Linked DNA regions of Homo sapiens: regions 2 and 3 are each linked to region 1. The links come from fine-mapping of genetic effects on gene expression. A gene starts in region 1. Each other region holds a variant in brackets. All regions are shown on one strand. Distances are from middle to middle.

Region 1 (2,652 bases):
TATAATGTGCACCAATTTCAACTATGAAGCCAGAGGACAAGAACTAATGCATGGAGGTAGGCGGGAATGTGCATTGTTCAGTCAAGAGATACTTGTTGAATTCTGTACACACTCATGAAGTGTTGGGGTTGTTTTTGGTACACAGTTCTTTCAAAAAGCTCAGTTAAAATGGAAGGGGAGAGAGAACCAGAGGTTTTAAAATCAAGGGAAAATTTAGGACCTAATCTTAAAACGTGATTATGCTGAGGAGTTGTAGGCAGTGGAGAGGGTGAAGTTAAAGATGTGCCAAGGACCGCCCACAGTGGGGAGCAGGCAGTGGAGAGGAGCAGGGACATCTAGCCTCCGAGATAGAAGGAAAACTAGTAAGTCTGGGTGTGGACGTAGATATAATCTATGGGGGTTGGTCAGGTGGTTGGGCAAAAGCTGTAGAAATCCATGCCTGAAGGCTTCTGCTTCTCTGAAGTAGAAACCGGGTCACCTGGTAAGCAATGTGGTCCCACTGACTTCTATTTGCACATTGGCCTTTCTTCTAAAAGCAATACACATAACCAACAGTACTTTTCTAAACTAGTTGACTTTTCTGTAAAATGCAGACAGTAGACACTACTTTGTCAGATTGTTGTGTGCGTTAATTGTGCGGACACGTATACTCGGTCAATAAGTATCTGCTTTATCACCGGGCTGATGTGAGTGAGGACTAGGTGGTGGGGCTTCCACAGATGAACGTTTTGATTAATAAAAAATGGACTGAAAGTCTTCGGGTATGACCAATGGCTAAATGCAATTATTTACTCTTGCAATGTGTTCGAGGTCACCCAGCTAGGTCAAGGAGTATTTATGGACAGCCTACTTTTGCCCCCGGACCTTAAGAAGTCCTGCTCCGGGATCAGCCGCCGACCGGAAAGTCAAATTAGCAGTGCCCAGCGCGAGCTTAGAGCAGCCTCTTCCCAAATCTCAGCGGCGGCCCCGCCCCTTCCACACGTTCAGGCCCCGCCCCTCCCTACTATTGGCTGTCCGTCCCCCTCCGCTAGACTGCTCGGAAGACCCGGAGGAGCGGAGTTTTCCTAAGGCAGCATCCGAGCGCCCTCGCTGCGCATGCTCGGGGGAGGCGGATTCCGGGTCCGGAGTTGGAGGCTTTGGGCGGCCGCGGCGTAGCGCGCGGTGCCGGGGCCGGCGGGGAGGCGCGCGCTTAGGGCGCGGCGCCGGCGACGCGGCCACGCGGCGCGCTCCCGAGGAAGGGAGGTGTGGGGTCGGCTGGGGGTGGCGCGTGGACGGGGTGGGGGTGGGGGGAGGGTCGGGTGTCGGCGAGCTCCGCGTGCGGGTTCCGAGTGGCTGCTGGCGGCCTGGGCTGCCGGGGCCGACGCCTGGGTGGCTGCTGCCGCCGCGCCTGCTGCGAGATGGCGATCTTGGGCGCGGAAGGGTGAGGGCGCCCGCCGCAGGAGGAGGTGCCGCTGCCGTGGCCGCCCGGCTGCCGGGAGCCGACAGCTTCGCGCCGGGTAAGGACGGCGCGGCGCGGGGCTGGGGGTGCGAATGGGCAGGGCGGGAGGGGGCACGGGCCCTGAGCCTTGGCCGCGGTGCTGGGCGCCCGGCGCCGTCCGCCCCCGGGCTGGACCCTCCTAGGACCCGTCGGGGGACGGTCCGCCCTACCTTGGCTACCTTCTCCAGCCCGGGAGTCGGGAGTTTTCTGGGGTGGGGTCACGGGTCTTGCCCGGAGTTCGCCCTGGCAAAGGCCTGTGCCAGTGATCCTGGAGCGGAGCGAAGTGTTTCCGTGACTCTGCAGCCGCAGTTCTTAGGCTTCCTTAGCCTTCTCTTCGCCTTCCTCCACCTTTCCCTAACACCTCCCTGAAAACACAAATACATGGACTCATTGCCCGTTCCCTGACTTTCACCCCAATTTCAGCGTTGCAAACCAAGGACTCCAGCTTTGGAACGTCTTTTTCTGACATGTTTTTATCACTCTCCGTTCTTCACCGACTCTGCAGCTCCCCATCCCCCGCCCCCCCAGCGCAACCCCCACCTCCACCTTTTGTGACCTGGTAGGTTCCAGTGACCTTGCAGATTTTACCAGTCCTTATCTTGTCTGTGACTTACAGACTCTCCTTTCATCTTCGTGTTCTTTTTTTAAAAAAATTTAATTTTGTAGTTTGCTCCTTACCTTTACGACCTTTAAATGATCAGTCTTGTTCACAGTCCTTTCTTTGCTCTGCCGATTTGGAGTTTTCTCTGCTGTGGTAAATATATGAAACCTTCATTACCAAAGAAGAGTAGTGTCTGTTATAATTTTGACATTTTTACTCTTTCAGAATAAAATATTTTCCAGGGGCTTGATTTTGCCTTCTTTTTCTATTTGATAAGTTTAACAAATTTTTTTCTGTGTGTGTGTAGGTTAATGTGGAACAAGATTTTGTGTTTCTGCTTTAAAATGTTACTGGTAATAGTAGTGGGAAAAAAAATCATGTCCAAAATTATCTTTGTTTTCCCCGTTTGGTGTTTTTACCTGAAATAGTTGGTTTACAGTTACCTGCATTTTTTTTTTTTAACAAGAGTTCATGTTTATGTGTAAATCCACTTTACCTGCCTCACCAAATCTGTGTGTATTATACAAGCAAAATGCACCTTTTAAAGAAGAAAGTCGTTCTTTTATTGTGTGAC
Region 2 (2,500 bases), 240 kb after region 1:
GACGGTTTCCTCCTCCTGCTGCTAGAAGGCTGTAAGAGAGAAAAATGAGTCTTTGCCACCAGTTTCAGTTTTCCTCCACTGAAATCTCTTTAAAAAAATAGCAACTATTATAAGTATTTATACTGCTTCAGAAATCATTCCCTAGAGGTGAGGGTCCAGGTGATTGTGCAGAGAGTGTCAAGATGTGGGAATAGAAATGGCTCAGTTTTCAATATATTTTTTCTCTAACTCTCACCTCTAAGTCCCACAAATCAAGGACTTGTGGCTGTCAGTATCCTGTCAGATCCTTCATCCCAGATTCCAGAAATGCAGAATCCTTTTGGACTGGGTATCCCTCATTTGCTCCTTCAGATCCACTTTTCACCTCTCCCCATGCTCCTTTGTTTCCCAGGAAGCTGACCTCTGTAGGCTTGCCCTCTGACTTCACTTGGGCTCAGCCATTGGAAAAGACTAATAGGAAATCAGAAAGCAGGAAGAGAGTGGGATCAGAGCATTTATCTCCCCTGTTATTTTCCTGCCAAGCCTTAGGTTAGCAGTGGCTGCAGTTCTCTACCAAAATCTACAGCTCCTGACACATGGATGTCTTCTAGAAGTGCAATTCCCATCACTCTTGATGAGTTCTGGTAAACATACCCTCTTCTTTTCCCATTCAGGCCTCACTGTAGTAACAGTTCCTTTGCTGTTGCTAAATTTGAGATGCATTGCCACCTTTTGTTGGTGTAGTAGTCCATTTTCACCTTGCTATAAAGATACTACCTGAGACTGGGTAATTTCTAAACAAAGGATGCTTAATTAACTCAATTCTGCATCACTGGCGAGGGCTCAGGAAACATACGGTCATGGTGGAAGGCAATTGGGAAGCAAGGCACATCTTATATGGCAGCAGGAAAGACAGAGAGCAAGGAAGTGCCACACTTTAAAACCATCAGCTCTCCTGGGAACTCACTCATTATCACGAGAATAGCACGGGGGGGGTGGCGGGGGGAACTGCCCTCATGATCCAGTCACCTCCCATCAGGTCCTTCCCTCAAAACATGGGGATTACAATTTGAGAAAAGATTTGGGTGGGGACACAAAGCCAAACCATGTCAGTTGGGTACTCTTAGACTTTTCCTCACTTCTGTCAGTAATCTCTTTATTAAAGTTTACTCAATTGCCTCACTTGAGTGTGTCTGTTTCCCACCTGGGCTCTGGCTGATACAACTCTCAACATCAAATGTGAAAGCCAGCACTTCATGATGCCCTGGTCACCTCAGGTGAATCCAATCTCATCTCCTACTATACTCCAAAATCAACTTGTTCCTCAGTGTCATAAGCTGCTCTATAATATAGTCATTCACATACATCTCCCCACCTGGAATGCCAGGGAATTGTGGGCTTTATGTCTTGGAGGGATATAAAAGAGCATTTTGCATTTGAGAAATAAGCAA[A/C]AAAGAGTGGGGGAATAAACACAGAAAGGAATAAGATAAATGAATAAAAAGTCTGTCGTTACCGGTGATCTGAGAAGGAAGGATTGGTTTGTAAAAACAGAACAAGAAAAACCACATTTCAAATGTTTAAAAAAGACACCATAGGATCTGCATTGAGAGGATAACACAACAGATTGAACCCCTTGGAGTTAATCTGTTAGAAACTGAGAAAGAAGGATCACATTAACAAAAGCAGTTTCTACAGGTGGAGAAGACAGAGAAAACACTCTGACCTTTGGAAGCAATGAGATATAAGAAGCTGCATGGGCCCTGTGCCTGAAGATTTATGTTATACAGTATGAACAACTTCTGTTGTTGCAGAAAAGGGAGGATTCCAGTTGGCTGTTAATTGTTAAAAAACTTATATAGGGTTTTAGCTCTGACAGGTTAAGAGCCTGGAAATCATTACTCCTGTCCTTACAACAAGAAAAAGCTGCACAATTGAAAAATTAACGACTTTTCTTAGATCCTTCAGAGAACTGAAGTCACAGGGCAAACTACCGCCCCCAAATCTGGAGAGAGAGGTGAATCCATAAAACTACAGCCATATCTGCTTACTGCAGCAGAAGCCCCTGGAGTCATAACTGGTAAGAATGCTTAAATGCTCATTTTAATAAATTGTTGGAGGCTGAATGTGGACTAGCATGAGAGTGAGAAACTCTTGGGGGCCATGGTTATAAAGTCACTCACACTTTTGTGGGATTTACCACCAGGAACCTCATCAGGTTCTTAGGGTGAAGAGCCAAGGAAGATCCCCTCTCGGCTCTGGCAGGCATAGGGGAAGATTAATCATTGTGAAATATACCCAGAGCATATTTGTTCTCCATACCGCAGGCCTACTATTTAGAGAAAAATACTTTACCAGAGCTTTGTGCTACCTGAGGGAAGAACATTTTTCCCAATGCAGCCCCTTTAAGACTTCCTGTCTTATCTAAGGGAGATGGAAAGCTAAGAAACTCCTGTGAATGTCACAGCATTGGGAAATACAAAAAACTGAAACTTTATCACAGAATTATAAATTGTTTCCCCTT
Region 3 (2,848 bases), 180 kb after region 1:
ATTACCATTAACAAGATTCCAGACCCTAGTGTTTATGTAATTTCTTCCATTTGCCATTCAGCCATAATGGGTTTCAGGATAACATTGAGACCAGCACAGAGTCATTTTTCAGAGAGGAATGCTGCTAATAGAAGAAATTTGTTTCCTGGCAGCAATGCAGTAGTATAACTGTCAGCAATTGGTTAAATAATCAGCTGTGCCTGGCATGTTGTTTTTGTAGCTTTTGTATAAGCATTTTTAGGGAAAAAAATAATGCTCTTCTGATATGTGGTGTCTCTTTGCTGTGAGACTGACTTCACATGTAGATGTCTTCATTCTCTGTTGAATTCTTCCCATCCTTGGAAATTTGAAGACTTTTCTGCTGGCTGGTAGAGAATCCTCTACATGTTTTTTTGGGGGAAGCTTTAGCTATTGTTGCTCATTCTATGTTCATCCACAGGGCACTGCATTATGCTTGATATTGCTGACATACAACTTACAAGACTCTAAACTACCTTATGCAAAAAAAAATCATACAACTCACATTTATTTTACAGATTCTGTATTAGATGCAAAAAAACAGTATGCCTGGCACGTGCCAGATTTACAAATTTACTTGCATTATCTCCATTTTTACTGATGAGGAAATCTAGGCCCAGGAAGTTGAAGTTACTTATACGTGGTCACACAGCAAGTGCCAGATGGAGGGTTCAACCGGGCGGTGGCGGGCACCTGAAATCCCAGCTACTTGGGAGGCTGAGGCAGAGAATTGCTTGAACCTGGGAGGCGGAGGCTACAGTGAGCTGAGATCGCGCCACTGCAGTACAGCCTGGACGACAGAGCAAGACTCCGTCTCAAAAAAAAAAAAATTGGGTGTGTGCATTACCCCAAATTTGATCTTGTTCCTGTAATGCAGTAATCTGTTACTATTAGTGCAATAGGAATTCAAAGGAACACCTTAGTATGGATTGGAATAATCAGGATAATCATGGAATGGAATAATAAAAAAATATGAAACATGGGATAGATAAGATAGGATCAGACCCTAGAGGCAGATAGTGATAAAATGATAATAAAATGTGAGCACTTACTGTATACTAGGCACATATATAAATATATAAGATACATATTTTTTGTTTGTTTGTTTTGTTTTTTTTTTGAGATGGGGTCTCACTCTGTCACCCAGGTTGGAGTGCAGTGGCATGATCTTGGCTCACTGCAAACTCTGCCTTCCAGTCTCAAGCGATCCTCCTACCTCAGACTCCAGAGTAGCTGGGATCACAGGCTCATGCCACCACACCCAGCTAGTTTTTGTATTTTAGTAGAGACGAGGTTTCACCATGTTG[A/T]CCAGGCCGGTCTTGAACTCCTGACCTCAAGTGATCCACCTGCCTTGGCCTCCCAAAGTGCTGGGAGTACAGGTGTGAGCTGCCGTGCCCGGCCAGCTTTGTTTTTAAACGGGTTTTCTAGCTACTTCTAAGACTATGCAACCTACTTCATTTTTCTTAGTCTCTATTTATTTAGGAATCTTAGTATTGATTTTTGACATATGTTGAGGACTGCTACTGTTTTTAGAGAGTTCAATAGAATTATCAAAATTTTTAAATAAGATGTTAGTTGTTTTTTGACATTACAAAGGGCTCTTCTAATGATAATCTTTGTTACTTCAGATTTGCTTAGGCATTTTATACAGCACAGGAATCTTACTGCCATATTTAAATATAACAAGATAATGAGTGGATTTGTTTCTGTGGTCCTAGAACTTCAGCTAAATCTCAAAGTGGAGGGCAAAGGGCATTAAATACTATCCCATTGCAAGGATGTTTGCCAGCAGCTCTAGGGTAGTAGGTACCTTCCCTCCTGCAGAACCTGCCCTAGCACCATCAACCTCCACTGGCTAAGTGGACATCCAGATGGGAAATGCAATGCCTAGTTCCTTTTCATGGTGACACCTGCAGCCCCTTTCATTCCCTGGGTTCATGGATGAAGGCAGCTCACCAGCAATACTACATTCCTTCTCAAGTCCAGCCCCTATCATATGCTCCATCCCATCCCCAGTCCTTTTCATATATTGATTGGAGACTGGGGAAGGAGGGGTCTATGGAAGTTAAGCTAACTCTGATATTTCTTAGCAAGTCATAAGGGAAGATGGGCCACACCTTCTCTCTGTAGAATAGTAGGCTTGTCAACCTTGTCTACACATTAGAATCATCCAAGGAACTGATGTCAGGGTTGTACCCTAAACCAGTTAAAATCTCTTTAAGTGGAACTCCTGCATCAGTAGCTTTGAAAGCTCCTCCAGATGATTCCAGGAAGCAGCCAATATTGAGAACCACTGCTGCAAAATATTGGGAGCTGGGGGTAGAGTGGAGGGAAAGGGGGCTTTGGGGGCTTTTGGTTTTAGTCAAAAAATCTTGAAAACAGAAAATATCCCACTCAGTGTCTTGTTAAATAAACAAATAAAAATAAAACTTAATCTGTTTTGTAGTATAATGCTATGCATACCTTTAAGTGAAGGGTCAAGATAATACTTGGAGTTTTTCTGAATGATAAAATTTATAGTTAAGGTAAAAAGAAATTTTTTTTTTTTTTTTTTTTTTTTTAGACAGAGTCTCTATTGCCCAGGCTGGAGTGCAGTGGCACAGTTATAGCTCACTACAGGCTCAATCTCTTGGGTTCAAGCAATCCTCTTGCCTCAGCCTTCCTAGTAGCTGGGATTATAGGCACACACCACCATGCTTGGCTAATTTTTTTTATTTTTAGTAGAGACGAGGTCTTGCTGTCTTGCCCATGATGGTCTCAAATTCCTAAGCTCAAGCCATCCTTCTGCCTCAGCCTCCCAAAGTGCTGGGATTACAGGCATGAGTCACTG

Direction of the effects. Alleles are on the strand shown, and positions count from the first base shown. SD is a standard deviation of normalised expression in the study named. Not every link is listed here.
For the expression in whole blood of the gene that starts at base 1,113 in region 1, T is the low allele of the variant in region 3 and A is the other (small effect, 0.38 SD a copy in GTEx).

Evidence for each region. PIP is the estimated chance that this variant, and not a neighbour inherited with it, causes the effect. A credible set is the group of variants that fine-mapping cannot tell apart.
Region 2: its variant is the best candidate, but not a certain one, in a credible set for the expression of WWP1 in naive CD8 T cells (Schmiedel 2018, PIP 0.87).
Region 3: its variant is the best candidate, but not a certain one, in a credible set for the expression of WWP1 in whole blood (GTEx, PIP 0.61).

Annotation. Positions count from the first base shown.
Region 1 is chr8:86,341,435-86,344,086 of GRCh38, forward strand. It overlaps WWP1 (WW domain containing E3 ubiquitin protein ligase 1), which reads left to right and starts at 1,113. Exons shown (of 25, transcript NM_007013.4): 1 at 1,113-1,496. It overlaps WWP1-AS1 (WWP1 antisense RNA 1), which reads right to left. Exons shown (of 6, transcript XR_007060994.1): 2 at 2,156-2,226; 3 at 1,648-1,842. RefSeq lists a silencer at 1,204-1,663.
Region 2 is chr8:86,579,224-86,581,723 of GRCh38, forward strand. It overlaps CNGB3 (cyclic nucleotide gated channel subunit beta 3), which reads right to left. Exons shown (of 18, transcript NM_019098.5): 16 at 1-29. Among named protein-coding and RNA genes, the nearest start is that of CPNE3, 66 kb to the left of the region's middle. The variant A/C (reference allele first, on the strand shown) is at 1,431.
Region 3 is chr8:86,525,393-86,528,240 of GRCh38, forward strand. All of the region lies in intron 2 of CPNE3 (copine 3), which reads left to right. Among named protein-coding and RNA genes, the nearest start is that of CPNE3, 12 kb to the left of the region's middle. The variant A/T (reference allele first, on the strand shown) is at 1,326.